7 linked regions of the Homo sapiens genome follow. The protein of the gene in region 5 purifies or fractionates together with the protein of the main gene of each other region. This does not show direct contact. Each region holds a gene or a part of one and is shown on either strand. Other genes may lie near its edges. The genes, in order: P4HA1, MYO1E, SH3BP1, RIT2, DTNA, ANXA4 and SEC23A.

Region 1 (4,617 bases), on a different chromosome or scaffold from region 5:
TCCTTTCAGTATTTTCCAGTGGTATTTCCTCTTGACTTAAAATATACTTTGTACTCATTATAGAAAATTTATTAAAACAGAGAAAGATACAGAAGAGTCATCTATAAGCCAGTCACTCAAAGACACCTACACATTTGTTTCCTTTTAGTGTATACGCCTCTTCCCTGCACACACTTTTCCTTTGCTTTTACAAAATTAGGTTAATATTGGATATCGTAACATTTATTGTGAGCAGTTTCTGAAGGACAAGAAATATTTTACAATCTAAGCCTAGGTATCCTAAACACTTAGTTACTGTCACAAGTGAAGTCTCTATATATTCTTCTGCCTTTTTATTTTTATGTGTGTGTGGTTCTTTAGTTTTTTTTTTTTTTCCTCTCAGATGGGTAGCGTAGTCATCTTTTCTTCTACTAAAAGGTAGTTCAAAATTATGACTAGCAATTCTGAGGCAGTTAGTGGATTCCAGCTTATTCGAAAATTATATCTTTAGTTTCCCTTTTCCTTCTTACTTAGAAATTTGGGACTGAACTTCACTCAGCCCTTAGAAGTAGGCTACATTTATAATGTATCTGTGGTAAAGGTTGCTTTTGAATTGCTTATCCCCTGTCTTCCTCATGTGATTGTTTTTCTGTCTTGGAAAAATCTTTTTCATTTCTTAAAATAAGTAGGATGAGTAAGATTTTAAACTTCATTTGACATCAAATTGAACTTAGTTCCTTTAGCTGATTAGTAAATTCTCAAAGTAAAAGCACCAGTTGCCACCTTTAAATAAATAGCTGTTTCTGTCTCCAGAACTGTCTTTTTTGAGACAGGGTTTCACTCCTTTTGCCCAGGCTGGAGTGCAATGGCATGATCTCGGCTCACTGCAACCCCCGCCTCCCGGGTTCAAGTGATTCTCCTGCCTCAGCCTCCTGAGTAGCTGGGATTGCAAGCACCCACCACCACGCCCAGCTAATTTTGTATTTTTAGTAGAGACGAGGTTTCACTATGTTGGTCAGGCTGGTCTCGAACTCCTGACCTGAGGTGATCCACCCACCTCAGTCTCCCAAAATGCTGGGATTACAGGTGTGAGCCACCAGGCCTGGCCCAGAACTGTTTTTATATAGGTGACTATATGTCCTGATTTACTTGGGGGCAGTAGTAACTTATACCTATTATTTTGGTATAATAATTTTTATTAGTGCCTCCTTTCACTCACAACAGCAACCTGGTTTGGAAGATAAATTATAATGTCTCCTATTTTTATATTACTATATTCTGATGCTTGAACAAGCATGAACTTACCCATGGACATGCTTTGTTTCTCTTCTAATAGATCCTGAACATCAGAGAGCTAATGGTAACTTAAAATATTTTGAGTATATAATGGCTAAAGAAAAAGATGTCAATAAGTCTGCTTCAGATGACCAATCTGATCAGAAAACTACACCAAAGAAAAAAGGGGTTGCTGTGGATTACCTGCCAGAGAGACAGAAGTACGAAATGCTGTGCCGTGGGGAGGGTATCAAAATGGTAAAGTGGAAAAGCCAATTGTGTGTATGTGAATGTGTGTGTGTATGTGTTTGTACACAGTTCTGGAGAGAATCAGTTATTTTATATTTAAGCCTATGTGATAAAAATCAGAATGACTGCATAAAATATTACAGTATGTCAGCTTAGGCAACATAGACCCCATTACAAAAAAATTTAAAAATTAGCTGGGCATGCTGGTGTACACTTGTAGTCTTAGCTACTCAGGAGTCTGAGGTGGGAGGATCACTTGAACCAGGAGTTCAGGGGCACAGTGAGTTATGATTACACCACTGCACTCCAGCCTGGGCTACAGAATAAGACCCTGTCTCTAAAAAACTTTTTTTTTTTTTTTTGAGATGGAGTCTCACCCTGCCACCCAGGCTAGAGTGCAGTGGCATGATCTCGGCTCACTGCAAATTCCGCCTCTTGGGTTCAAGCGATTCACCTGCCTCAGCCTCCTGAGTAGCTGGGATTACAGGTGCCCGCCACCATACCCGGCTAATTTTTGTATTTTTAGTAGAGATGGGGTTTCACCATGTTGGCCAGGCTGGTCTCAAACTCCTGACCTTGTGATCCACCTGCCTTGGTCTCCCAAAGTGGTGGGATTACAGGCGTGAGCTGCTGTGCCCAGCCTAAAAAACTTTAAAAAAAAAATTACAGTATACCATTCTCTCTCTGTGGGTGCCACATTTAATATGTTCCAATTATTAGTAAAATAGCTTTAAAATAAAGCTTGTGAATCATATACTATTACATATGTTTGGGGCAATATTACCTTTTTCATTTGATCCTTCCAGGGTGAAGGATCAAATAAGTTTAAAGGAAGTGATAGTTTTTTTTATATTTAATGCAAGAGAGATTTCAGCAGTATTTTTTTTTTTTTTTTTGAGACAGAAACCCACCCTATCACCCAGGCTGGAATGCGGTAGCGCAGTCTCGGCTCACTGCAACCTCCGCCTCCTGGGTTCAAGCAATTCTTGTGCTTCAGCCTCCCAAGTAGCTGGGACTACAGGCATTCGCCACCATGCCCGGCTAACTTTTTTGTATTTTTAGTAAAGACGGGGTTTCCTTATGTTGGCCAGGCTGGTCTCAAACTCCTGACCTCAGGTGATCCTCCCGCCTCGGCCTCCTAAAGTGCTGGGATTACAGGCGTCAGCCACCACACTCATCTGTTCAGCAGCCTTAATTAGAGACAATAACACTACTCTGTGCATCTTATGAGATACAACAGATTCATCTATACAATAATCCCTTGTAGTTTTGCTCCTAGTTAATCTTCACAAGATTGCTTAGTGAAATGCTTTAGTCTGTTTAATACTGAAAATGCAGAAAGTTTTCAACAGATTTTGTCTTTAATATTTCTTTAAAATATATCTATAAATATTACTTTGTTTATTGTATATGTATTTATAACTCAGAATTCCAGTTCTATAGATGTTAATAGATACTAGGCCAAAAGCAAAAAGAACAAAGTCTGGGGAACATTTGTTAAACAAAGTTGAACATAGGTTTTTGTTTAGCCTCAAAACTTCTCAGAACCTTTTTATGATAATGTGCATTGTGATATGATATACATTCTTTCTCAATATTAATTGATTATGGAACCTTTTGAAAAGGAATTTCATGTGGTATTAGTTTTCAGTTGAACACAGGCTTGCATAGAAGGAGTTAGTGAATTTTTGGAGTAAGTACTTTTAGGTGTAAACATTTGAAAAGTGTTTAACATTTTCTTTACTACTGGTAAACTCAAGCTGGGCTTTGCATTTCGATATTGATGACTGTTGACAGCTTAACCACTAACAGCAAAGTATACAATACGTATGGTGACACTTTCAATAGATAGGTTCATGGAGTCCTAGGAGGACATGCTTGAGCTAATGAGTAAATACAAAGATGGTGACACTGTTAGACTCATTATTTTCTTTTTTTTTTCTCTGAGACGGAGTCTCGCTCTGTTGCTCAGGCTAGAGTGCAGTGGCGCCATTTCGGCCCCTGGGTTCACGCCATTCTCCTGCCTCAGCCTCCTGAGTAGCTGGGACTACGGGCGCCTGCCACCACGCCCAGCTAATTTTTTGTATTTTTAGTAGAGATGGGGTTTCACCTTGTTAGCCAGGATGGTCTTGATCTCCTGACCTCGTGATCCGCCTGCCTCGGCCTCCCAAAGTGCTGGGATTACAGGCGTGAGCCACTGCACCTGTTCCCTCATTAAACATTTTCTTTTCTGTTTCATTACTAAATATTTTAGTATGTATCTTTTAAAGATACAAATTCAAAATAACTACAATACCATTATCACCTAAAAATTCACAAGTTTTGTAATATCAAATATCTAGTGTTCAAATTTCCGCAGTAAGCAGAAATTTTTATTGCTCTTAATAACTCTTAAGGAACAAAATAAAACTGTAGATATAAAACAAAGAGTCTGCTAATTTCCCGGTTTGTTAATGTAACACATACTCAACTTTGCCTAAGATCAAAAGAACATTCTTGCCAGGCACGATGGCTCATGCCTGTAATCTCAGCACTTTGGGAGGCCAAGGTGGGTGGATCACCTGAGGTCAGGAGTTCAAGACCAGCCTGGCCAACATGGTGAAACCCCATCTCTACTAAAAATACAAAAAGTTAGCCGAGCATGGTGGCAGGGGCCTGTAATCTCAGCTACTTGGGAGGCTGAGGCAGGAGAATTGCTTGAACCCAGGAGGCAGAGGCTGCAGTGAGCCGAGATCAAGGCATTGCAGTGCAGCCTGGGTAACAGAGCAAGACTTTGTCTAAACAAAAACAAAAACAAAAAATTCTTTTTCTCAGAATAGCTACATTCATCTCATCATTATATAAAAGACTTACTAAAAATTAAAGCCTTGGATTTGACTCTAGGTAAAGTGCATGGAGAATAAACATGAATCATTATTTGTTTTAGTATACTATTAGTATAATAATTGAAACAGACTACTCATATTCCTGCTTATGTGACATACTTGTTTTTGTTTTGTTTTGTTTTTTTGAGACAGCTTCTTGCTCTGTCACCCAGGCTGGAGTGTAGTGGCATGATCATGGCTCACTGCAACCTCTACCTCCTGGGCTTAAGCAGTCCTCCCATTTCAGCCC
Region 2 (4,617 bases), on a different chromosome or scaffold from region 5:
TTTCCAATATTATTCAAACTACTCATTTGTTTGTCTCTCATATTTGGGCCCAATGCCTGAGTTGTGTTATCCTGAAGAAGTTTTCCAGATAATAAAATAGGAAAGAAGAATTAAACAAATTTTCCACTTGAATTAATTTTCAATCTAAATCTTATAAAAATGGACTTGACCAAATTTAACTCTTTATTTACCTTTTCCCCTGTCTTGGATTCCTTGGAGACCAGAAAAAAAAAACAATTAAATTGATATTTTCATTGATTTTTGCAATATAAATTATTCATTATATTTGGAGGATATATCAGTTTCTGTAAATAACAAAAACACTCAACATTTATTATTTTTCTAATTGCAAAATTTTATACAACCCTGATAGAAAGATTGGAAGAGACAATTCAGACACACATTCACCTGCACACACACACACACACACACACACACACAAACACACACTGTCTCTCTCTCTCTCACTATTCACCATCATGGATGAGAGAAATGTAAATGAAAACCACATATAATTTTCTGTCTCTCAAATGGGCAAACATTAAGTTGATTGATAATAATCGAGAAAACACGCTATTGGTTGAGAACTGACACATTCTTCCAGGAAAGTGATTGGGCAATTGTTATTAAAATTTTAATCGTTCATTATCTTTGCCCAACAATACTTTTAGAATAAATTACATAAGCTTCCTGCTTAAATAACTACTTATTTTAAAAGATATTCATAATATATTGTTAAATTAAAAAAACAGATTACAGAACAATATTTACAATATGTTCTTGTTTTTTTTTAATGTGCACATTATATGAAAGGTAACTAAGAGGTATGTAAATCAAAGTTTGACATCTATGACAGTAATTATTTAGCAAGAGAATGAAGAAGTGGCATCAGGGTAGAATTATGAGTAATTTCACTTTAAAAAATGCACAGGTATTATGAAGCATAAGAATGTATATATTTAACACTTACAAATCTTTTCAAGTTAAAGAATGTATTACGAAATACTTCAAACACGATTTAAAAACAATGCAATGAACATCTATGTATCTGGCACCCAGCTTAGGAAATAAATCATTACCAAGAGTCGAGGTGAAACTTCTTTTCATTTCATTATCAAAATGCAAATGCAACCTTTTATTCCCTTTATAAAATTTCCTGTCATCCCCCCCAGGCTGCTATACAGCAGTCCTAAATATGTTAACCTTTTGTTAGAAATTTTAACTTTTATATGACAATTATGAGCCATGCATATGCATTTTATTATGTTAGAGCAGTGGTTCTCAACCTTGACCACACATAAAAATCAGCTGGGTGCTTTTTGAAAACCACACAGCTCCGGGCCCTGGTCCTAGAGTCTGATGTGCGTGGCCTGGGCTGACAGCATGTTGGAAAGGCTCCCCAGGTGTTTCTAAGGGGCATCCAAGGTTGAGCACTGCTGCTAGGAGGACTTGGGAGCTTGCCTGTCCAACACCTGCCCTTCCTGGGTCAGATGTTCTGTTTGGTTTCATTTTCCCTCAACTGTTGAGGAATGGGGGACAGGCACTGAAGTATTCCCTCTATCACATGCCAAAAGGAAAGGGTGGTGAAGGTGGCCGCCAAAGGAAGCACGGGAGCTCTCTTTCAGTGAGCTTTTCTCAGGTGCCACTGACATTCCGCAGAGCGATGGCTGGTGGTTCTCTGTGCCTGGTGCTGCTGGGTGTTTTTGTTTTTTGCCTGGAGGAAAAGAATCATCAGATTAAGACACATAGACAGTTAGAGGCTGGCCGCCTTCGGTGGTCTTTCTTGACACCTAGAATAATTACGAACAGGAACACGGCATGTACTCACACATTTGCAGTGTGCACAGTACTTTTCTTGCCCTTAATGAGTTTACAGCTCCAGTCACAGACATAAAACCCAGCTGAATTCATCCCTGAGATGGGTGGATTTAGTCAGCATACACATTTTTATGTTATTAAATGTGAATGCGATGAGGCTGGGCATCTTCTCCAGTTTGACCATAGACCACACCACTCCCTCTTTTCCTTTATCCGTATTTACCCTTCTGGCCTCTGAGGGTGCTTAAGTTTCTAAGCACAGGAGACAAATTAAGTTCTAGTGAGAAAAAAAAACCAATTTAAATATACATATGAAATATATATAATAATTGTTATAATAATTATATATATAATTTTGATTCATTTTATTTTGGTTTTTGGACAGAGTCTCGCTCTCTGGCCCAGGCTGGAGTTCAGTGGCATGATCTCGGCTCACTGCATCCTCCACCTCCCAGGTTCAAGCGATTCTCCTGCCTCGCTGGGACTGCAGGCACCCGCCACCATGCCCAGCTAATTTTTTGTATTTTTAGCAGAGATGGGGTTTCACCATGTTGACCAGGCTGGTTGCGAACTCCTGACCTCCAGTGATCCACCTGCCTCAGCCTTCAAAGTGCTGGGATTACAGGCGTGAGCCACCGCGCCTGGCTATATATAATTAATATAACAACCTAGATACCTTTTCAACTACAGTCTAGGTTTTTATTCTCCTTTGTTCCCTATTAGCAGTCATTTAAAGAGGAATTTTCATAACAATGACAGTGACAAAAATCCCTAGGCCCGTCAGTAGCTAGAAAGAACTTTACTTTTAATAAAGTGTTTCCGTTCTAGATAAACATTTTAGATGCTCCGTAGGTAAGAGAGATTGAGTGTTTTTGCTCAAAGCCATGAGATGAAGCCTGACAGAGCAAGAGTGCTCTTCCTCTGAAAGGGTGCCATGCCATTTTTCTGCCTCATGATTTACACCTTCTGGTTGAGCAGACAGGCACCTACTGGGGGAAAATGAGCAAGGAATAGAGCATATCCTTATTTAGTCATGCTGGAATGATAGGTGCTCTCTCTAACAGAATCGTGTGGCTGGACAAAAGCACGGGTTATTGTCTGATTGAAAACTAAGGAAGTCTAGACTCAAATTAGGAGTAATTCAGAATGTGTATTTTATTAATGAATTTCCTTGAATTATATACTGTATTCAAAGCCTGTTTGGGACATCATGTTTTGTTCACCAACCATTGAAGGAAATCCCTAACTTTCTTGCAGGGAAAATACTTTGAAATCCAGTTCAGTCCAGGTGGGGAACCAGATGGTGGAAAGATCTCCAACTTCCTTCTGGAAAAATCTAGGGTGGTGATGAGGAACCCAGGAGAGCGGAGTTTTCACATATTTTACCAGGTTTTCCTGTTTACTTTTTTCCTACCCACTTCCTGTCCCTTCTCTACATTAAAATATTTCTCAGACTTCAGGCATAGACTATAGTCTAGGAAGCCAGGGAGGACTGATGATGATACCATGTACAAGTCAATGTGCAGAATTGTGAGAATGTCCTGCCCTCAAGGAGAGTGAGTTCTAATTGGAGTGATAAGACAGAAATTCCTCCAAAGCTAAATCATCAAGAAAGTATTGATGTAACTTCAAAACAAAACGAGGAGTGTTGGAGTCTTTGCCAAAGGAATTCAGGTGGGCAGGTTTGGCCGGATAGTAGGAGAGGTGTGAAGGAGGTAGAGCCCGGATGGAAAGTGGAGGGGATTGATGAGGGAAGACAGGTGACCTGCACCAAAGCAGTGGAGGTGGGAGAGGGAAAGCCAGTCAGGGAGCCCGGCCTCAGCCTGCCTGCAGGGCAGGCGTCTCCAGAACGTGAGCTACCGGAGGAAAGATTTGAGATAGGTTTGGGATCTTTAATGCCAAATTGAAAAGTTGCCACCTAGACCCTCAGAAGTCATGGAGAGTTTGGGGCCAGAGCAGCTTGCAGGGTGCTTTTTGATTATGTTACAGGCTTCAGCAGTCATCTGAGTCAGCTACTTTTATTTTATTTATTTTTTTATTTGAGACAGTGTCTTGCTCTCTTGCCCAGGCTGGAGTGCAGTGGCACAATCTTGGCTCACTGCAACCTCTGCATCCTGGGCTCAAATGATCCCCCTGCCTCACCCTCCCAAGTAGCTGGGACTATAGGCACATGCCACCACACCTGGCTAATTTTTGTATTTTTCGTAGAGGTGGGGTTTCACCATGTTACCCAGGTTGGTCTCTAACTCTCGGACTCAAGTGACCCACCCACCTCAGCCTCCCAAAGTGCTAGGATTACAGGCGTGAGCCATTGCACCTGGCCCTGATTCAGGTACTTTTGTAAAAGGTTTTTAAGTACTTAAAAAATATAATGATGTTAATAACCAAATTTTTTATGTTCTATTTACTTATTAGTATTTTATATTGAAGATCCACATTAGACTTTCTTCGAAGAAAGACCTGGTCACTGTTTTTTGTTTTGTTTTGTTTCATTTCGTGTTTAGTTTGTGGATCACTGGATTAGAAGGACATTAAACTGTGGAAGTAGCTCACATTCAATCTTTTCAATTACACACACATCTTAGGCAATGCCAAATAATTCTTTTAGTTTGTACCTGTTGGTTGAAAAAGTATATAAATGATTAAAACTTCTGTGAATTCAGTCATTTTTAAAATTGTATTAAAGCAACATATATAGATAAGTGAAAAATAATTATATATTTCACATAAATAATACCCAGTGCTAGATGGAAGTGTATAATGGATGTCAGGACTTCTTTAAATAAATGCAAGCCCCAA
Region 3 (4,617 bases), on a different chromosome or scaffold from region 5:
CTGTGTGGAGGGTGGAGTGAAGCGGGCAGGACTAGAGCCAGGCCTGTGAGGCAGAAGGAGGCAACGGTGGCCTGGACTAGGACAGAGGCAGTGGAGGCGGGCTGATTCGAGAGATGTGACGGATGATTTCAGATGTGTGCCTGGACAGTCAGTGGCAGGTGGTACCACCTTGAGGACATGAAGGGGGGGTGCCCCTGCCTGACTGCTCGGGGTGGGAAGGCCCTGGGCCGCTGATCTGTTTCATCCCTGCAGACCACTCCCCTTCGATGACAGCCACCCACTTCCCCAGGGTGTATGGGGTGTCGCTGGCAACCCACCTGCAAGAGCTGGGCCGGGAGATTGCCCTGCCCATCGAGGCCTGCGTCATGATGCTGCTTTCTGAGGGCATGAAGGAAGAGGTGGGGTCCCCTGGGGCAGGTGGGGAAGGAGCACTGGGGCCCTCATTCTGTCCCAAACCGCCCACTTGCTGCCCTTTCCGGGTGCCTGTAATTCCCTCATTCGAGCCCAGCTCCCTGGGAGAAGACATGACTGCCTCCTGCGGCATCCACACTACCTCCCCCGTGTCAATGCTCGCGTGGGCCAAGCGCTGTACTAGAAGCCTTTGCATTCCAGGCTCCATTTCACAATTTCACAAGAGGGAGACAGAGGTAGAGAGGTAACCATGCCCAGAGTCATTTGAGAAGGTGACTTCTCAAACCAGGGGCTCCACTGCCACACACTGGCTGGATCTGCTGTGAATACATTGCCCCCCTGTCCTGAAGATAGACCCTAGTGGTGGCAGATACCCCAAAACAGTTCTGCGCTGCTCAGCAATCCTGCTGTGCTGGGGCCTCCTTTCTCCCTTACACTTTTTTTTTTTTTTTTTTTTTTGAGATATGGAGTGTTGCTCTGTTACCCAGGCTGGAGTGCAGTGGCGTGATCTCGGCTCACTGCAGCCTCTGTCTCCTGGGTTCAAGCGATTCTCCTGCCTCAACTTCACAAGTAGCTGGGACTACAGGCATGCACCACCACGCCCAGCTAATTTTTGTATTTTTTAGTAGAGATGAGATTATGTTGGCCAGGCTAGTCCTGAACTCCTAACCTCAGGTGATCCACCTGCCTCAGCCTCCCAAAGTGCTGGGGTTGCAGGCATGAGCCACTGCGCCCGACCCTTTTTTTTTTTTTGAGACAGGATCTCGCTCTGTCACCCAGGCTGTAGTGCAGTGGTGCGATCCTGGCTCACTGCAACCTTCACCTCCCTGGTTCAAGCGATTGTGTCTCAGCCTCCCAAGTAGCTGGGATTACAGATGCCCACCACCATGCCCAGCTAATTTTTTTTATTTTAGTAGAAATGGGATTTCACCATGTTGGCCAGGCTGGTCTCAAACCCCTGGCTTCAAGTGATCCACCTGCACAGGCCTCCCAAAGTGCTGGGATTACAGGCGTGAGCCACTGCACCCGGCCCCTCCCTTCCACTTCTGACTGGGCTTCCATTTCCCCATGATTTTTCCCGCCTCCTCCCAGACTTCCCAGCCCTGCCCTTTGCTCAGAATTCTAGACCTTGAAGGTTGAAGCCCGTGGACACCGTGGTGCCCACACTGCCAGCCAGACCAGCGGGGACACAGGCCTAGCAAAGGCCAGTGGCACACCCCAGGCTACAAGTGCGCCAGGGTGTCCTGCCCTGCCCACCCCTCTGTGACCCTTGCCTGCCTCCTCTCGAACCCAGGGTCTCTTCCGTCTGGCTGCTGGGGCCTCGGTGCTGAAGCGTCTCAAGCAGACAATGGCCTCGGACCCCCACAGCCTGGAGGAGTTCTGCTCCGACCCGCACGCTGTGGCAGGTGCCTGATCCGGGGAGCCCTGGGCAGGAGGTTGGGGGGGAGGGGGTGCAGTGGCTTGAAACGATCCCAAGATAGCCTGGCTTTAAGACTTGATATTCTGTTGAGACTGAGGACACTCGGGTTCTTAATGTGGGGTCCATCATGAGCCCCCCGAAAATGTTTGGCATTTTTCTGGGGACAAGATGGCTAGCCTTCATTTTCTCAAAAGGGCCTACAGCCCAAAGAAACTGTCAGACCTAGACACGTTAGTGTGAACAAGGGCCGGAGGTTCCTTCTACAGGGAGAGTGGGAGAGCGGGTGGGGGCTGCCTCTGACCCTCCCCACACCCCTCCTTCAGGTGCCCTCAAGTCCTATCTGCGGGAGCTGCCAGAGCCTCTGATGACCTTCGACCTCTATGATGACTGGATGAGGGCAGCCAGGTGAGGATGTTGGAGGAGGGAGGGGATGGGGAGGAGGAGGATGCAAAGGTGTAGCCCTGCGCTGGCTGACAGGTCTCTCCACTCCCCCCCAGCCTGAAGGAGCCAGGGGCCCGGCTGCAGGCCCTCCAAGAGGTGTGCAGCCGCCTACCCCCCGAGAACCTCAGCAACCTCAGGTGAGCCCGAGCCCGCCTCCCCAGCCTGCCGCAGAGCCAGAGCCCAGCTGAGGTCACGGACCCTGGGACCCTGGGCTTGAGCCTGGCCTTGCCACTGTATCCTAAGAAATATTACTGAAAATGCAGCTTTGATGGATTAGTCATTTATATATATAATTTTTTTTTTTTTTCTGAGACAGGGTCTCACTCTGTCGCCCAAGCTGGAGTGCAGTGGTGCAGTCTTGGCTCACTGCAACCTCCGCCTCCTGGGTTCAAGCAGTTCTCCTGCCTCAGCCTCCCGAGTAGCTAGGACTACAGGCGCCTGCCATCACACTCGGCTAATTTTTGTATTTTTAGTAAAGGTGGGGTTTTACCATGTTGGTCAGGCTGGTCTTGAACTCCTGACCTCAGGTGATCCACCCGCCTCAGCCTCCCAAAGTGCTGGGATTACAGGCGTGAGGCACTGCGCCCAGCCGGATTAGTCACACATTTTTATGCGAAGCATTGAAATAAATGAGACCTTGAACTTTTGAAGCCATACCGCCTGGCTTCACATGCCACCTCTGGGCAGGCCACTCAGCGTCATCATCTGGAAAATGCAGACTGTAACAATCTCTACCCTGTAGGGTGGCTGCTGAGGACTCAGCTTGGCTCAGTGCCCACTGCAGGGTTGGCACTCAGTGGATAAGCTGATTTAACTGTGACAATGTTAAGACCATTCTGGGCGGTGTCTTTCACACTCTTTGGAAACCCTGGGCTGGAGAATTCTCAGGGCTGGGTGCGTTCTGCCCCTGGCCTAAGCCTGCCTCCGCCCTTAGGTACCTGATGAAGTTCCTGGCACGGCTGGCCGAGGAGCAGGAGGTGAACAAGATGACACCCAGCAACATCGCCATAGTCCTGGGACCCAACTTGCTGTGGCCACCTGAGAAAGAAGGGTGAGGGGCCGCGGGCTGGGGGAGGTGGCAGGAGGAAGGCAGATCCCATCCCAACTATCTGTTGTCTATTTTTCCCCGGGGCCTTGGTGTCCCCATTTTTGGAGTGGGTTGAGCAGCTCCTGTTTTTGAGGCTGCCGTGAGGAACAGGCCAAAGGGGCTGTGCAGGCCACAGGGCTTTGGAGAGAGGCAATTCTGGCATTTTGGCCAGTGGTGGTGATGAGGTGTTTAGTGGCATGGGGGAGCTGGGAGCCCAGAGATCGGGTTCTTTTTTTTTTTTTTTTTTTTGAGATGGAGTCTTGCTCTTGTTGCCCAGGCTGGAGTACAGTGGCGCAATCTCGGCTCACTGCAACCTCCGCCTCCCGGGTTCAAGCGATTCTTCTGCCTCAGCCTGCCAGGTAGCTGGGACTACAGGTGCGCACCACCACTCCCGGCTAATTTTTTGTATTTTTAGTAGAGACAGGGTTTCACCGTGTTAGCCAGGGTGGTCTCGATCTCCTCAGCTCGTGATCCACCAGCCTCGGCCTCCCAAAGTGCTGGGATTACAGGTGTGAGCCATCGCGCCCCAGGTGTGAGCTGCCGCGCCTGGCTCGATCAGGTTCTACTAATAGCTCCACCCCTCCACCTTCCAGAGATGGGCCTGAGGAAGACACCCTCAGAACCTCGATTTCCTCATCTGTAAATTGGGGAGAAATCATACAAACTTTGAGGGCTTTTGCTTTGGGGAGTGAGTGATATGATGAATTGGAAAATGTTTTAGAAACTGTGAAGTGCAAGCCAGGTCCAGTGTCATGCCTGTAATCCTAGCACTTTGGGAGGCCAAGGTGGGAAGATCACTTGAACTCAGGAGTTTGAAACCAGCCTGGGCAACTTAATGAGACCCTGTCTCTACAAAAAATTAAAAAGATTAGCCAGGCATGGTGCACACCTGAAGTCTCAGCTACTCAGAAGGCTGAGATGGGAGGACTGCTTGGGCCCAGGGAGTCAAGGCTGCAGTGAGCCATGATGGAGCCACTGCATTCCAGCCTGTGTGACACAATGAGACCCTGTCTCTAAAAATGAAGAAATAGGCCGGGGGCAGCGGCTCACAGCTGTAATCCCAGCACTTTGGGAGGCCGAGGTGGGTGGATCACCTGAGGTCGGGAGTTCGAGACCAGCCTGGCCAACATGGTGAAACTCCGTCTCTACTAAAAATACAAAAATTATCTGGGCGTGGTGGTACGCGCCTGTAATCCCAGCTACTCGGGAGGCTGAGGCAGGAGAATCTCTTGAACCTGGGAGGTGGAGGATGCGGTGA
Region 4 (4,617 bases), 8.4 Mb from region 5:
AATATTAACCTTCTATTGAAGGTTAAAATATTTGCTTTCAAATGAGCTAAAAATATACATGGTTTATTTTATCTCATTTGAGCCTAGGCTGGGGTGCAGTGGCATGATCATGGCTCTAAAATATACGTTTTAAAACCTACTTTTCATATCAAAGACTTAGATCAACAGAGGTATATGAAGGGATTGTATAACCCCATTACCCTGGGTTGTGTGAAGAGATTTCCAGAAGAGATCTGCTCTTCTGAAGAAACTAAAGAAGATGCATCAAGCTACCATCTGTTTCCAATTCTGAGAGTCAAGTCCAAGTCAGCCTTAAACATGAATTAAAAACTAAATTTATGGTGACTATAATTTTTAAAATCTTGGAGATTTTTTATGTATATTAATATTTATTCTTTTTTATTTTTCTTTTTGTAGAGATGGGCTCTCACTATGTTGCCCAGGTTGGTCTCAAACTTCTGGCCTCAAGCAATGCTCCTGCCTCAGCCCCCCAAAGTGCTGGGATTATAGGCATGAGCCATTGTGCCTGGCCTGAGAAATGTTTTTGTCCATGTTTTACCAAAATATTTTTTAATAGAAACTTTTAAAAGAATTTGCAACTTTACTGAAATAGGAATTCCCACAAGATTTAAAATATGTCAGTTAATGAATGTACTTTATGTGAGGAATTTTAAACCACAAGTAATCAATAAAGTTTACTGAGCACGTATTATGCACAGTCCTATACTAGTTACTATGAAGGACGTAAACATTTATGAAGCCCCCATTGCATGGCAGGCATGGGCTACATGTATTTCACGCTTATACTCAGTCCTAACCACAGTCAGAGTCGGTATTTCTATTTCACAGATGAAAAAACAGAGGTCAGAAAAATAACTTGTGCCTGGTCATGGGGGTAATAATTTAGAGTTCTGTGATGTTTTATCTAACTCTACTACATTATGTTTAATGCTCTGAGAAGAACAAAGAGTTGCATCACTCACTAGTAAGAAGAAAACAGATCCATTGATAATGCATTTCCTAGGTCTCGAATGTTATATTTAGAAGAGATCTTAACCATCTAGGCTATCACTTTGATTTATACATCTATGCCGCTTTAATCTTTAACCTAATTGAACACTATGCATAATACTTCTGTATAAATATATAATATTAATATTTGTATTTATATTTTTATAATTATATGTAATATTGTCCAAGAATGTTACTAACTGCAGAGAAAACAGGGATACACAAGAATTATTTGGACAATGGCCAAACTGAGGCATTGAGAGGTGAAGAGACCTGCAAAGGTCATTTATACAGCAGTGGCAGAGTCAGATCCAGAATCCAGTCCTTCTGACACCATTGAAGCTGCTTTTCCATCACTCCCCAATTTTTACACAGAGTAAGCTGAATCAAAACTGCACCATACAAAGTAACAGATATGTATACAAAGTAGCAGACATTTAGGAGGAACAAGTATAGAGATCTAATGTATAGGATGAGGACTAGAGGTAATAATATTTTATTTGGGGTTTATGCTAAATTAGTAGATTTTTTTATGTTTATTTGTACATAGTAGGTGTATATATTTTATACATGTATATATTTATGGAGTACATGAGATATTTGGATACAGGCATACAGTGTATAATAATCACATCAGGGTATGGTGTATCCATCACCTCAAACATTCATCATTTATTTGTGTTATAAATCTTCCATTATACTTTTTTGTTATTTTAAAATGTACAATAACTTATTTGTGATGATAATGACCCTGTTGTGCTATCAAATGTTAGATCTTATTCATTCCATCTAACCACAATTTTGTACCCATTAACCATCTCCACTCCCTCTTCCTACTACCCTTTCCAGCCTCTGGTAGCCATCATTCTACTATCTCCATGAATTAAATTGTTTTAATTTTTAACTTCCACAAATGAATGAGACCATGCAAAGTTTGTCTTTCTGTGTCTGGCTTATTTCACTTGACACAATGATCTCCATTTCCATGCATGCTGTTGCAAATGACTGGATCTCATTCTTTTATATAGCTGAATAGTATTCCATTGTGTATATATACCACATTTATTTTATTCATTCTTCTGTTGATGGACACTTAAGTTACTTCCAAATCTTGGCTATTGTTGCTAGTGCTGCATAAATTAGTAGATTTTAGCTGCTGATACTGCCACCCCCTATAAAAAGTAGCTATGTGAAATGATGGATATGCTAATTTGTTTTCCTATAGTAAATATTTTACTATCTATGTGTATCCCACAACATCATATTGTATACCTTAAATATACACAATAAAGTTTATTTTAAAAATAAGACTCATGACGAGAAAACTACTTAAGAAACAACACACATATATATACACACATACACATTCAGTGAAATAACATTAAATGACAGTAGAATAGAAACTTATATTACAAACTGTGATTACAACTAAAACCAAAAGAAAACAACAAAAAAGACAAATTATCCAATAAAGTTCAGTATGTTAGGCATCTTTTAGGCATCTTCTTTTAGCCTTCTATCTCATTTTGTTCCACTGCCCGCCACTCACCCACCCTAAAAAATAAAAATAAAAATAATCTCATGGTTACAGTTTTAAAGTTTTATGGAGCCTAAACAATCCTTATAACAGTTTCAAATATTGACCTTTGTCACTGTGGTTTGAAACAGCAAGGCCGTTCCTCAATGCCAGAGCATGATGAAATATTGTCTTCCTTGGCTTCACATCTGGTTCTCCAAGTTCAGAATCAAATTTATTCAACAGATTTTATTTAATAAAAATAATATCTTATTTTCCAGGTATTTTGGAAAATATCTGCATTTGGGATTTATTCTAAGTTAGTAGGTTTTTATTTTACTGATTTTTTTTATTTTTATGGGTACATAGTGGGTATATATATATATGGAGTTAAGGAAATATTCGTATACAGGCATACACTTAACATAATGATAATGTTTTAAGATTTAAATAATTTAAGATTCATAATGATCATATTTTGCAAAATAAGATATTATCGCATAAAATTGGGGTAAAAATAACATTTTACTTATTCTGATTATGATCTTATTTGATCACAAAGTAAGAAGGCAAGTAGGAGAGGTATCTAAGCACAGAACTATCAAGAGATTTGTCTAGTAGGAAAGTCAGAAAATAAGGACTGGACATGAACACAGGCTTTCTACATCTAAATTGTTTTTCTATCAAATTGTATGGGAAAAGCAGAAAAAGGTTCCCAATGTCAGATGAGAACTTTATGTCCTTCTCTGGTCCCTAGGACACATCTTGGAATTATTTGGTGAAATGTTGTCAACATACATCTTCAAATGTGAAATATGTATGAAACACTATGCAAGTCATTGAGCAGGGAGGGAGTGTTATTCACAACTATGATTTCAGGTGATTCCTGACCTCTGGGAGTGCACCATCTCATGGTGGAAAATTTGCTGTAATGTGTAATACAAAACAATAAGTTTATATTAGGCTTCTGATGTAAGAGCTTTGGAAACTCAGTATAAGGGGTGGCTATAAGAGATGTGAAAGTTGAGAAGAAATCACAGCATAGATGGTATTTAAATTATGTCTTAAAGGATGAGGAGGATTTTTTTGATGCTGAAGAAGAAAAGTATGGGGAGATCCAAGGGAAAGAATTGAACATAAACAGTGTATACAGGGGCACAAAGGGATCTGAAGGCTTATAATTTTTAATGGCAGCATCTTGATAATTTAGTGTCTCTAAGTGGTAGTTGAAAAAATATCTTTTGAGATTTGCTCAATAGATGCTTCAGTTAACTGTGAAAAAGTTACACAACACAAATAAACTGAAAACCCAAAAAGGATTAGGGAACTCAGAATTTATTAGAATGTTTCCATTGTGAATTCTTTGTAAAGAAAAAACTGATTTCTAAAATAAACAAACATATTCTCTCCCACGGCCATGTGCAGTTTGTTGCCTCTGCAAATTCAGTTTCATGTAGCAGGATTTTATAAAGAGAAAGCAGTAACAATATCTCTGAGGTAAACGGAAAGCAGCACACAACCAATTCCTTCCACCTCAGTGAATTAGGAAAGCAGGTAGGAAGTTGAGCCTTTATCTGATGAATTAAATCAAGGCAAGCAACCAAGTGCATCATTCATGTCCCACAGCCTCTGTATTTTACTTCATTAGCAGAACTTTGAGTCTGACAAAGCTCAACAATTGTCACATCGTGGCCATGCGTTATCCTAACCCTGTGGACTGTAAGGCAAAAGAAACAAAATAAACAAGGGGAAAGCAAAAAGATTTTAAGATTCCAGGGCCTTCTGTTCTCACCCTTAATTGTTACCACCTCAGTTGTACTGCAGACCATCACTCACTGCAATACTGTCAGGAAGCATTAGCCAAGAGGTCTAAATAAGGCTCAGTAAAAGAGTAAATTGGTATCTACTCACTCAAATAATGATTGAAAACAGAATTCAGGCGAAAGGCTTTGATTGACAACATCTCCAAGATTATATGCACTCTGTAGATTTTAAATTGATGAAAGAGAGTTTCTACAGCTCTACATGAGTACTATATGATATGTCTGCCCCATCTATGACTGGAGATGAACGAGCATGTAATAATCCCT
Region 5 (4,617 bases):
GCACTACTACTATCTTTTCAATGTCAGTGTCCAACACAAATATATTCAATATAAGGTTTTTTAAAAAAAATAAATGAGAAAATGAATGAGCATTAAAATTCTTAAGCAAACAAAACTACAGACTACTTGAGACCAACACTTCTCTGGAAAATCTTGGACTTGCAGTCACTAGAATCAAAGGATTTCATTGATCTGTATTTCTGTAGATAAAAGGGAAATTGCACAAAGAATACTCACCTTCTTGTCCTATCTATATCATCCGAATTTAGCAGAGGTGCTTGAAATTAACCTCCGATATTAAATAAAAGACCCTATTTGTTGTGCTTAATTCTAGAGTGTCACTGTCTATTAAGATAGCACTAGACACACGTGGCTATTTCAATTACTTAGCATTAAATAAGATTTGAAATCTGTTTCATCAGTCGCACTAGCTACCTTTCAAGTGTTTAATAGCCACATGTGGCTAGTAGTTACTATATTGGACTAAGAAGATATAGAGCATTTCCAGCATCACAGAATTTTGAACAGATTGCTCTGGAGCTCTGCCTCTCCACCACACCTAAATGTAGGTGTGGCCCAGTTATTCAAGCCCAGTTATCCTCTGCCCATCCTTATATGAGCAGAAATTTCTTTAGAATAAATTTCAAAAACTAATAATTGGAATGTATACCCTATTTAAAATATTTTGTTATTTTCTCTCACAGTCAAGGCATTCCAGATTTTACCATTTGGTATTGAATTTCAGTGAAATTATAAAAATCTACCCTTCCCACTTGATATGAGACTTCTTATTTGCAAATCAGCGGTGAAGACAAACACATATACATGGGTAAAGGGATTCACAGACTTTTCTACTCTTTAACATTATTATTTTAATAATTTCATAAATTTGCATATTTATATTAACTCAGCTAGTTAGTAGCATGATTCAGGCATTCCAATTCTTAAGCCAAGACTCTTTTTCTACACCATGTTGCCTATACATGTTCCATCTAAAGAGTTGGGAAGTCAACAGTTAGACCAGCATATAGCCATGTCTATGACTTCTTGCAGCTTTTTTTCTTTCTTTCTTTTAATTGAGATGGAGTTTCACTCTTGTTGCCCAGGCCGGAGTACAATGGTGTGATCTCGGCTCACTGCAACCTCCGCCTCCTGGGTTCAAGCGATTCTCTTGCCTCAGCCTCACAAGTAGCTGGGATTACAGGCGCCTGCCACCACGCCCAGCTAATTTTTTGTATTTTTAGGACAGATGGGGTTTCACTACGTTGGCCAGGCTGGTCTCCAACTCCTGATCTCAGGCGATCCACCCGCCTCGGCCTCCCAAAGTGTTGGGATAACAGGTGTGAGCCACGGTGCCCGGCCGACTTCTTACAGCTTTATAGCTTCTAGAGAGGAAATACGAGCTCATGTGTTTTCTATATTTCTTGGATTTTCTTTTTCAGACTGCTATTGTCTGAAACAACGAAAAACTATGTAAATACGTTAGACTATTTATTTTGTTAGGACATATTCCTAGTAGTAGAACTGTAGGGCCCAAGGATATGCAATTTTTAAAGACTTTGCTACACATTGCCAGCTTGATCAACTCCCCACCTGCACCCAGTGTACACTGCTATATGATAGCAGTGTATATGTGTTCCCATTTTCCAGACTTTTCCTAAACCAGACATTATCTCCCCCTTCCTCCTTTTGCTTTCCCCTTTAAAAAATAGTTGCTAATTATTAAAATGACATGTGTTTAATTTGTAGATATTTTTAAAATTAAAAGGGAAGTGCTTTTTCTTACAGATTTATGAGACCTCATTACATAACATGGATATTCACTTTTTCTCTTTCATATATGTTGCAAATGTTGTTTCTAATTTGCCATTTATCTTTTTAATTTTGTATATAACATATTCTAGAAGGAGTAAGTTTTCATATTACCATTCCTTTATGATTTTTGTCTTTGAGGTCATCCTTTTCTATCATAAGTTCTATATTTTCTTTCACTACTTTCATAGATCCATATTTTATACTGGAATTGCCAATCCATCCAGTATTTTCTTTCATGTCAGGGATGTGTAGAGGTAAGTAATTTTTCTGAGTAAATGTTCCACCAAACAAATCAAAATTAACAGGTTTCAGATATAAAATATTGTTTATTTAAAATAAATAATTAAAAAATTAAAAACAATTAAAATATTGAAATGGTGTCTAGTGAACATTTCATAACATGTGTGTTTGAGAGTGGGGAATTATTATAGTAATACCACTCTAAAATATCCAGCTAATAATACCATGAAGTGAAGACCAGTTAATTGCCCCTTTATATACTAAAAATATAACTAATTGTTCTTTCCTAGAAATGAGTTTGCATTTTTCCTGTCAGATACTGACCCACACATTGTACAATTCTTGATAAGTTTAATCATTTTTTTTTCTATTTTTTATTATTATACTTTAAGTTTTAGGGTACATGTGCACATTGTGCAGGTTAGTTACATATGTATACATGTGCCATGCTGGTGTGCTGCACCCACTAACTCGTCATCTAGCATTAGGTATATCTCCCAATGCTATCCCTCCCCCCTCCCCCCATCCCACAACAGTCCCCAGAGTGTGATATTCCCCTTCCTGTGTCCATGTGATCTCATTGTTCAATTCCCACCTATGAGTGAGAATATGCGGTGTTTGGTTTTTTGTTCTTGCGATAGTTTACTGAGAGTGATGATTTCCAGTTTCATCCATGTCCCTACAAAGGACATGAACTCATTATTTTTTATGGCTGCATAGTATTCCATGGTGTGTATGTGCCACATTTTCTTAATCCAGTCTATCATTGTTGGACGTTTGGCTTGGTTCCAAGTCTTTGCTATCGTGAATAATGCCACAATAAACATACGTGTGCATGTGTCTTTATAGCAGCATGATTTATGGGTGGCTGGGTCAAATGGTATTTCTAGTTCTAGATCCCTGAGGAATCGCCACACTGACTTCCACAATGGTTGAACTAGTTTACAGTCCCACCAACAGTGTAAAAGTGTTCCTATTTCTCCACATCCTCTCCAGCACCTGTTGTTTCCTGACTTTTTAATGATTGCCATTCTAACTGGTGTGAGATGGTATCTCATTGTGGTTTTGATTTGCATTTCTCTGATGGCCAGTGATGGTGAGCATTTTTTCATGTGTTTTTTGGCTGCATAAATGTCTTCTTTTGAGAAGTGTCTGTTCATGTCCTTTGCCCACTTTTTGATGGGGTTGTTTGTTTTTTTTCTTGTAAATTTGTTTGAGTTCATTGTAGATTCTGGATATTAGCCCTTTGTCAGATGAGTAGGTTGCGAAAATTTTCTCCCATTTTGTAGGTTGCCTGTTCACTCTGATGGTAGTTTCTTTTGCTGTGGAGAAGCTCTTTAGTTTAATTAGATCCCATTTGTCAATTTTGTCTTTTGTTGCCATTGCTTTTGGTGTTTTAGACATGAAGTCCTTGCCCATGCCTATGTCCTGAATGGCAATGCCTAGGTTTTCTTCTAGGGTTTTTATGGTGTTAGGTCTAACGTTTAAGTCTTTAATCCATCTTGAATTGATTTTTGTATAAGGTGTAAGGAAGGGATCCAGTTTCAGCTTTCTACATATGGCTAGCCAGTTTTCCCAGCACCATTTATTAAATAGGGAATCCTTTCCCCATTGCTTGTTTTTCTCAGGTTTGTCAAAGATCAGCATTCTTATACACCAACAACAGACAGAGAGCCAAATCATGAGTGAACTCCCATTCACAATTGCTTCAAAGAGAATAAAATACCTAGGAATCCAACTTACAAGGGATGTGAAGGACCTCTTCAAGGAGAACTACAAACCACTGCTCAAGGAAATAAAAGAGGATACAAACATTCCATGCTCATGGGTAGGAAGAATCAATATCGTGGAAATGGCCATACTGCCCAAGGTAATTTACAGATTCAATGCCATCCCCATCAAGCTACCAATGCCTTTCTTCACAGAATTGGAAAAAACTACTTTAAAGTTCATATGGAACCAAAAAAGAGCCCGCATCGCCAAGTCAATCCTAAGCCAAAAGAACAAAGCTGGAGGCATCACACTACCTGACTTCAAACTATACTACAAGGCTACAGTAACCAAAACAGCATGGTACTGGTACCAAAACAGAGATATAGATCAATGGAACAGAACAGAGCCCTCAGAAATAACGCTGCATATCTAAGTTTAATCATTTTTGATGACAGCCTCTATCGCTTATTGAACAAAACCAAGATATTTTATAATAAAGTCTGATAATAACATACCAAGCACCTCTATTCCTAGTGACTTATAAATGCTATTAACATAATTAATTAAATTTGAGGGTTAATTTCTGAGAATCATACTACCCATTAGTAATTTCCACTTTCCTTCTAAGAGCATTGGCCTTTTACTACACAAAGAGGCAAGAGCTTTCTAATCTATCTTATTCTCCAAATTAATCATTATTGTCGTTATCATTATCATCATGATCATGGTACCATTACTTTCTTTTTCATTTGAAAAGTCTTAGATTTCTAAAAAAAAAATCCAATTCTTTTCATGTCAAAAATTACATAGTGGTCAATAATAAAATTCACCTTAATAAAATCGGAGGTT
Region 6 (3,856 bases), on a different chromosome or scaffold from region 5:
AAATAAGCATTCTGAGATAATGATAATAGCAGTGTAGAAAAATGAAGTTAAAAAAATTCAAAGTGTTGAGAATCCTCCTGTCCTTCTGGGATTTTTATTTTAATCATCTCCTCCACAGAGAACAAGCAGTACTTTCCTGTAGTCTCCAGATGTGTCACCCTGTTCGATAGGGAAGCAAAGTTAGATAAATAGATTTTAAAATGAAACACACAGTTCAAAGTCATCTAAGCCAACTTTTTCAAGCTTGGCTGGATTTTTCTTAGCTTTAAATTTTTTTTGTTATTTTTTATTACGAAGGTAATACTTATTCAGTGTAGAAAATAAAGACAAAAAAGAACACAAAAATCAACCATTATTCCATCATCTAGAGACTACTATTCTTACCGTTTTGATGTGTGAATGTCCTTCCAGTCTTTTTTCTATGTATCTAGATACCCAATGTGATAGAACAGTAGTATTCTGTGTTCTGCTTTTTCACTTAACAATATAGCCTATTTCCCTATTTTGTTCATTTTTGTTTGTGGTTTTTTTTTTTTTTTTTTTTTTTTGAGACAGAGTCTTGTTCTGTCACCCAGGCTGGAGTGCAGTGGCGCCATCTTGACTCACTGCAAGCTCTGCCTCCCGGGTTCACGCCATTCTTCTGCGTCAGCCTCCTGAGTAGCTGGGACTACAGGCGCCTGCCACCATGCCCGGCTAATTTTGTTTTTGTATTTTTAGTAGAAATGGGGTTTCACCATGTTAGCCAGGATGGTCTTGATCTCCTGATCTCATGATCTGCCAGCCTTGGCCTCCCAAAAAGTGCTGGGATTACAGGCGTGAGCAACCGTGCTAGGGCCCTATTTTGTTAAATATTATTCTACAACATTATTTAATGGTTACAGAATATCCCATTGTATGCAGGTAAAATAATTTATTTGATCACATCCTCCCTCTCCCTATTGTTGGATATTTACGTTGTTTCAATTTTTCACTATTATAAACACTGCTTCAATAAGCATATTGTAGTTACATTTTTGTATATTTTCTTAATGATTTATTCTGGATAAATTTTCATAAAATGGGAATTACTGGACTAAATGCATTTTCTTAAACCTTTTTTTTTTTTTTTTTCTGAGACGGAGTCTCGTTCTGTGGCCCAGGCTAGAGTGCAATGGTGCAATCCTGGCTCACTGCGACCTCCGCCTCCCAGGTTCAAGTGATTCTCCTGCCTCAGCTGCCTGCGTAGCTGGCACTACAGGTACACACCACCACGCCTGGCTAATTTTTATTTTTTTAGTAGAGACAGGGTTTCACCATGTTGGCCAGGCTGGTCTTGAAGTCCTGACCTCAAGTGATCCACTCACCTTGGCCTCCCAAAGTACTAGGATTACAGGTGTGAGCCACCGCACCCAGCCTGTTTTCTTAAACATTTTGATATGGGTTACAAAACAGTCTTCCGGAAAGGTTCTATAATTTCTGCATATAAATTTTTGTGGTCTAATAATTGATTAATTTTTTAATCTTTAATTTTATTTATTTATTTTTATTATATTTTTAGAGACAGGGTCTTGCTCTATCACCCAGGCTGGAGAACAGTGGTGTGGTCATAGCTCACTGCAGCTTCGAACTCCTGGGCTCAAGTGATCCTCCCACCTCAGCTTCCCAGAATGCTGGGATTACAGGTGTGAGCCACTGCACCTGGCCTAGATTAATTTTTATTAGTCATTCGTGGGGACTAGAAAAGATGGAATCTCTGTATATAGGGTTCAAAGTTTAATAAGTATCTGTTAAGCTCAATCTTAATATATCCTTGTTTATACTTTGCCTCATTGATGTGCCAAAGCATAGGATGTATTAAAGTCTCTCGCTAGCATACTAATTCCATTATATGTTTTCTTCTGGAGCCTCAAGTTTCTTATTTATACATTTGAATGCAATATAATTTGGTACTGAAAGTTTCATAACAGTTTAATCTTTGCTGTGAATTGTTGCCTTTGTCAGTATAACGTGATCCACTTTCTCCTATTTAATACTTTTTCTCCCTAAATTCTTCTTTTTATTAATAGCATAATCTCCGCTTTCTTTCTTGTATGTCCGCTTTCTTTCTTTCCCTGGTGTTTTTCTTTAAGCTTTTTACATGTCACTGTATTTTAGTTGTTTCTTATAAACAGCATGAAGTTGGATTTTATATTTTTACCTAACCTGAGAGTTTATTTATTTTTATAACTTTTATTTTTATCTTTTGTCATTTTTTTCTATTATTTACATATTTTATGCTTCTATTCTGCTTTTTTCATTTCTTTTGACAACTATTATTGAATGAGTAATGTATTCTTTATTTTTAATCTTTTCTAGTGGTGTGTGTGTGTATACACACATATATTTACATATTTATATATACAGACATATATACACTAGATTATAGTGTTTTCTTCCCAAGCCAATCAATATATTTGTACTCAATCATTTTAGTGTTGGTATAGTATTATATTGTATGGATTTTCCATAATTTGTTATTCCCTATTGATTAATAGTAATAACAATATATAATAAATTATATACTATAATACCATATTATTGATATAAATATAAATAACATAAAGCCATGTAAATAATATAAATAATGCTATGATGAAGTATTATACTTCATCTATTCTTTTCACATTTCATTAAACAATTTTATTCAAATTCAGAGACTTTTTCTTGTGGTAAAAAAATATATATATATAATTTGTCATTTTAACCATTTTCAAGTGGCACTAGTTACTTTTACAATGTTATGTAACCATCATCACTGTCTATTTCTAAAACCCTTTCATCACCCCAAACAGAAACTCTGTACCCACTAACCAATAACTCCCATTCTTTCCTCTCCCTCCAAATTGCTGGTAACCTCTAATCTACTTTCTGTCCCTATGAATCTACCTATTCTACATATTTCATAAAGCAGAATCATACAATATTTGTCCGTTTGTGTCTGATTTATTGCACGTAGTATATTTTCAAGGTTCATTCACGTATCAAAAATGTCATTCCTTTTTTTCATGACAGCGTACCATTGAATATCATTGCTTTTTATGTATGTATATACATTTTGTTTATCCAGTCATCTGTTGATGGATATTTAGGTTGTTTCCACCTTGTGCCTATTGTTAATAATGTTTATGTTGATGTACAACTAGCTGTTTGGGTTCCTGTTTTCATTTAAGTATATAACTGAGAGTGGAATTGCTGGCTCATATGGTCATTCTATGTTAAAATTTTTTCTTTTTCTTTTTTGGGATGGGTCTTTACTCAGGCTGGAGTCTTGAAGTGGTACAGTCATGGCTCACTGCAGCCTCGACCTCCCCAGCCTCAGGTGATCATCCCACCTCAGCCTCCTGAGTAGCTGGGACTACAGGCGTGCACCACCACACCCGGCTAATTTTTGTTGATTTTGTAGAGACAGGGTCTCACTATGTTGGCTAGGCTGGTCTCGAACTCCCGGGCTCAAGTGATCCACCTGTCTCGGCCTCCCAAAGTGCTGGGATTACAGGCATGAGCCACGATGCCTGGTCTATATTAAACTTTTTGAAGAAGTTTGGTGCTTAAAGTTTCGTAACAGACTGTTTTTCACAGTGGCTGCACCGCTTTATATTCCTACCAACAGTGCACAAGAGTTCTAGTCTCTCCATATCCTCCATAAATCATTTGTCATTTCCTGGGGTTATTTTGTTTTTTTCTTGTTTGTAGTATATTTTCCCATAACTTCACTTACCGTCATCCTTGAATCTTAAACTAGTTATATAGTTCAGCTCTGCAAAATCAAGTTACCTCATAGCCTAGTCAGAAATAGAAACAAGTTCCTGCATGCCTTGTAGACGTAGTAACAAAATCC
Region 7 (4,026 bases), on a different chromosome or scaffold from region 5:
TGTGGCAGGGTCTAGATTTTAACCAAGGTCTAACTCCAGACTCTGAATTTTTAATCAAGTTAATTTGATGATTGCATTTAAAGGAAATAACAGTAACCAAGAATTTTACTAAAAATTAATGGACTCTAATAGCTTACAGGATTTTTTGGGGGTCAGAAATCAAGGACCCTATGATAAGTATTATCCATGAACGGCCGTAAGAGGGCACCACTGCAACACTTCTGTGACAGTGCTGGAGGCCTCTGTTGCTGTAGTGCCTCATATACTAAATAATGTAAAGCTTGTACCTTTCTGCCTAATCCTGGATATATTTTAAATAGAAAAAGGGTCCATTTGAAAAGTTGAGATCAGCTAACTGCTAATTTTTTATAAAATCGAATGAGCATTGGTATTTATCATTTCAAGCAGGAGCTCTGTGGTATATAAATTAGGAAATCCTTATATTTTGTCTTGACTAGGAGAAATGGCTCTGAGATTGGGTGACTTGAGATGGAAAACATTGTAAAATGAAAATAAAATCAGGCATAGTTACAGGAAGAAAAAAGTAAGAGCCATGAGGTTGTTACTGGTTTAGGTTACAGTTTTGAGACTTGTGCTTTTCTGTGTTAGCTATGCATATAGAATAAAGAAAAGTATTTCATTGTTATAGATTTTTGAACAGGAGGAACAATAGAAATAGCTAAAACATGTATGTCTACTGTGTGTACTAGGTACTGTTCTGTTTGCTTTATAGAATTTAACTCATTTAATCATTACAACAACTTGTGTAAGATAGGTCCTGTTATTATCCTTGTTTTACACATGGGGAAACTAAGACATAGTTTAAATAACTTATTCAGTCATATGGGTAGGAAGTGGCAGAGCCAGAATTTGAGCCTAGGCATTCTGGATCCAGACTCTATGCCCTTAATCCCAGTAAGGGATTGCCTCCCTTCATTATCAAATCTTTCAAGTTCTTTTGAATAAACATATGATAAAATTGATTTCCCTTTATTCAGGAGAGGTTATGGCATGTTTGTGGCTATGCCAGACTAGAATCACAGGAGCTATAAGTTCTCATCTCACATTTGCCAATAATTTGCTGAAATTACTTAATTTCCCTGTTTTAGACTTTGAATATTTATAATTAATAAGAACTTGAGTATAAGAAGAAAAATGTAAAATTCAGATTAAAAATCTTCTAGAAATACCTTCTCTTGCTGAAGTAAAATTTCATTGTTAATGGATTGGGTTACCAAGATCATTCTGTCAATACAGTTTTTATTAAAATGGATAATAGGAATTTTCCCTAACTCTTGTTAATTACTTGGAACCTACAGAAATCAATTAAAACGACCTGAAAACTTGAGAAGCATAGTTTATTTAAAAAATGATATTATGAGTTTGCTTCCTTCCAGCTGGGATTTCTCTTAAAATGCCAGGGAGAAAGGGTCTGGAGGTCAGGCTTTCTTTTAAAAGCACCAAGCCTCTAATTCCATTGTTAGTCTTCGTGGTGACTAGCCGCCATCCTGATTCATCTCATCTCATAGCATAAACTCCTATGTGATCCCATCAGCCTATGAATAAAGACACTCCTATTATCAGGGAATTCTAAGGATGTAGAGTCTCCCTCCCAGCAACCAGGGACGGAGGCCAGTTAGATTCTTTTTATTTAATAGGACCATAGGCATTTCAAATGATTTCCTTGTCTATTTTAAACATTTGTGTATAAATTCCATGATATCACCCTATGCTTTAATCATAACAAATATCTTTTTTCCTCTAGGAGTCTGGAGCACCTATTCTTACAGATGATGTTAGTTTACAAGTGTTTATGGATCACTTGAAGAAACTTGCTGTGTCCAGTGCTGCTTGAAGTGCTAATAATGTTAAAGACACTTAAGAAGATGAAATAATATTCAAATTTCATTTTTTCCTTTTTCCATTTATCTGTGGAAACCAACAGATATTGCTCTATATTTTTTGTATTAGTATGGTTTGAGACAACATATGGAAAATGTTCACATTTGTAGATTAAGCTGGAATTATAATGAGAGCAATAAGAACAAATTTATTTTGCTTACCACAGTGTTATAGCTGGTTCTAGAAATTTGAAGTCTTTATAACTTAATTATGTTTAATAAAAAATAGAGTCTGCCTCGTACTACAGATGTAACTCATTTGTATATTGCAGACAGACCCAAAGTGGCACTGAATTTTCTTGCTCACCTTTTAAAAACTTGTTCCTTAATTTTAGCCAGAAAGCAAAAAAACAATAGTAATGATAAATGTGAACATTTTTGCTTATTCATTGAATATTTTTCTGTAATTTTCAGCACTTATGTATACACTTTTTCTGTACTTACTAGGTTAAGGCAGATTTATTTTTATGATTTGTTTAGGAATTATTTGATTTTATAATGGTAATTTTCATGATGATAATGTTTTTGGTTATTTGGAAAGATAGTTTAGAGATGAAAGGTTTTTTTGGGTAACAATCCCGCAGCTGACAAAAAATGTGAAATTTCCACAAAATATCCAACTTATGTGACTAAACGCAGTAGTTTTTTTAAAAGGGGAGATAGAAAATAAATGGTTTTGTTGGAGTGCATTTTAGTAAGCCTTTGCAGTAAAATGACGGTTGTAACTACTAAACCAAATTTAGTTTTCACAGCATGGTTTTGTTGTTTTCCCCTTGTTTTTCAGAGGTAAATTTTGCATTATATCCTTCAGTATTTTAACACTATTTTGGCAGTTTACACATTACTTTTTGTTTTTCCTTCCTTTTTGTGAAATGTATTAAGTTGTGGTTCTTATTGAAACAGTATTATATAATGTTTGCTTAATTATATCATGTGATGCTCAGTTCTATTTTGATTTATTCATTAGTATTCACTTTTACCTTTAAAGTTTACTTGTAGCAAATATGTTTACATTGATAAAGCCAGATATGTTTTGACAATGAAATTTACATATCAAGTACTGCAAATAAAAGGTGGTGCTATGATATATGCTTAGGAGGACAGTTTTAATGATTGTACTTGCATGAACACAATCATATGATGGTAAAGCAGAAACTTAAGAAAAAATTGTTTATGTGTTATATTCAATTAGCTTAAATAAGTTGCTTTGTTATATTTTATTTGAATTGAACTACGCTAGGCCTAAATGCCAATAAAATATACTTTTCACTGTTTTTCTGGCTATTTTGAAATCTAGTAAAACCTGAGAAGCCTAATGTAAAATTAGAGTATTTAAAATCATTAGATTTAAAAGCTACTCATTTAAAAAATAACAACTTTAAGATATAATTCACACATCATACACTTCACCCACTTAAAGTGCACAATTTAATAGTTTTGAGTATTTTCGTGAAGTTATGTATGTAACCACATCACCACAATCAATTTTAGAGTATTTTTTATCACTCCCAATAGTTACTCATTTTTGTTGTAAGGCTAGTGTGTTTTTAAAAAGGGAGATAGAAGTTCATGTAGTTTTTTGTTGTTGTTGTTGTTTGAGACAGAGTCTTGTTCTGTTGCCCAGGCTGGAGTGCAGTGGCACAGTCTCAGCTCACTGCAACCTCCACCTTCTGGGTTCAAGCGATTCTCCTACCTCAGCCTCCCAAGTAGCTGGGATTATAGGCGCCTGCCACCACACCTGGCTAAGTTTTGTATTTTTAGTAGAGATAGGGTTTCACCGTATTGGCCAGGCTGGTCTTGAACTCCTGACCTCAAGTGATCCACCTGCCTTAGCCTCCCAAAGTGCTAGGATTACAGGTGTGAGCCACTGCACCCAGCCAAGTTCACGTATTTTGAATTGAGGAAAGACATTGTAATGATGACACCTGTTTAATTTGCTTGGCCTCTTAAGTTATGTTCTTTAAGTGCTTGGCCTCTTAAGTTATGTTCTTAAGTGTTGTGCCATTGTTTCTTGTCTTGGTACTTAGCCCTAAACTGTCCTCTACTTCTAAATCAGTTACAGCTGAATTTAGGGATAAGGATGAACAAATATACCCTTTTAGTTCACCATTTAAAAGCAATCACC

Evidence for each region.
Region 1: the proteins of DTNA (region 5) and P4HA1 purify together in Homo sapiens (affinity purification with mass spectrometry; one large-scale study listed by BioGRID and IntAct). This does not show direct contact.
Region 2: the proteins of DTNA (region 5) and MYO1E fractionate together in Homo sapiens (co-fractionation; one large-scale study listed by BioGRID). This does not show direct contact.
Region 3: the proteins of DTNA (region 5) and SH3BP1 purify together in Homo sapiens (co-immunoprecipitation; one large-scale study listed by IntAct). This does not show direct contact.
Region 4: the proteins of DTNA (region 5) and RIT2 purify together in Homo sapiens (affinity purification with mass spectrometry, with the first as the bait; one study listed by BioGRID). This does not show direct contact.
Region 6: the proteins of DTNA (region 5) and ANXA4 purify together in Homo sapiens (affinity purification with mass spectrometry, with the first as the bait; one study listed by BioGRID). This does not show direct contact.
Region 7: the proteins of DTNA (region 5) and SEC23A fractionate together in Homo sapiens (co-fractionation; one large-scale study listed by BioGRID). This does not show direct contact.

The regions. Positions count from the first base shown.
Region 1 is NC_000010.11:73,047,948-73,052,564, reverse strand, and holds part of P4HA1 (prolyl 4-hydroxylase subunit alpha-1 isoform 2 precursor), read left to right. Parts: intron 1-1,315; coding exon 1,316-1,512; intron 1,513-4,617. UniProt on the Homo sapiens protein: Catalyzes the post-translational formation of 4-hydroxyproline in -Xaa-Pro-Gly- sequences in collagens and other proteins.
Region 2 is NC_000015.10:59,226,049-59,230,665, reverse strand, and holds part of MYO1E (unconventional myosin-Ie), read left to right. Parts: intron 1-3,075; coding exon 3,076-3,207; intron 3,208-4,617. UniProt on the Homo sapiens protein: Actin-based motor molecule with ATPase activity. Unconventional myosins serve in intracellular movements. Their highly divergent tails bind to membranous compartments, which are then moved relative to actin filaments.
Region 3 is NC_000022.11:37,645,113-37,649,729, forward strand, and holds part of SH3BP1 (SH3 domain-binding protein 1), read left to right. Parts: intron 1-252; coding exon 253-398; intron 399-1,705; coding exon 1,706-1,817; intron 1,818-2,154; coding exon 2,155-2,236; intron 2,237-2,328; coding exon 2,329-2,409; intron 2,410-3,206; coding exon 3,207-3,323; intron 3,324-4,617. UniProt on the Homo sapiens protein: GTPase activating protein (GAP) which specifically converts GTP-bound Rho-type GTPases including RAC1 and CDC42 in their inactive GDP-bound form.
Region 4 is NC_000018.10:43,108,537-43,113,153, reverse strand, and holds part of RIT2 (GTP-binding protein Rit2), read left to right. Parts: intron 1-4,617.
Region 5 is NC_000018.10:34,713,025-34,717,641, reverse strand, and holds part of DTNA (dystrobrevin alpha), read right to left. Parts: intron 1-4,617. UniProt on the Homo sapiens protein: May be involved in the formation and stability of synapses as well as being involved in the clustering of nicotinic acetylcholine receptors.
Region 6 is NC_000002.12:69,821,759-69,825,614, reverse strand, and holds part of ANXA4 (annexin A4), read right to left. Parts: intron 160-3,856; coding exon 100-159; 3' UTR 1-99. UniProt on the Homo sapiens protein: Calcium/phospholipid-binding protein which promotes membrane fusion and is involved in exocytosis.
Region 7 is NC_000014.9:39,031,068-39,035,093, reverse strand, and holds the end of SEC23A (protein transport protein Sec23A), read left to right. Parts: intron 1-1,765; coding exon 1,766-1,855; 3' UTR 1,856-3,175; downstream 3,176-4,026.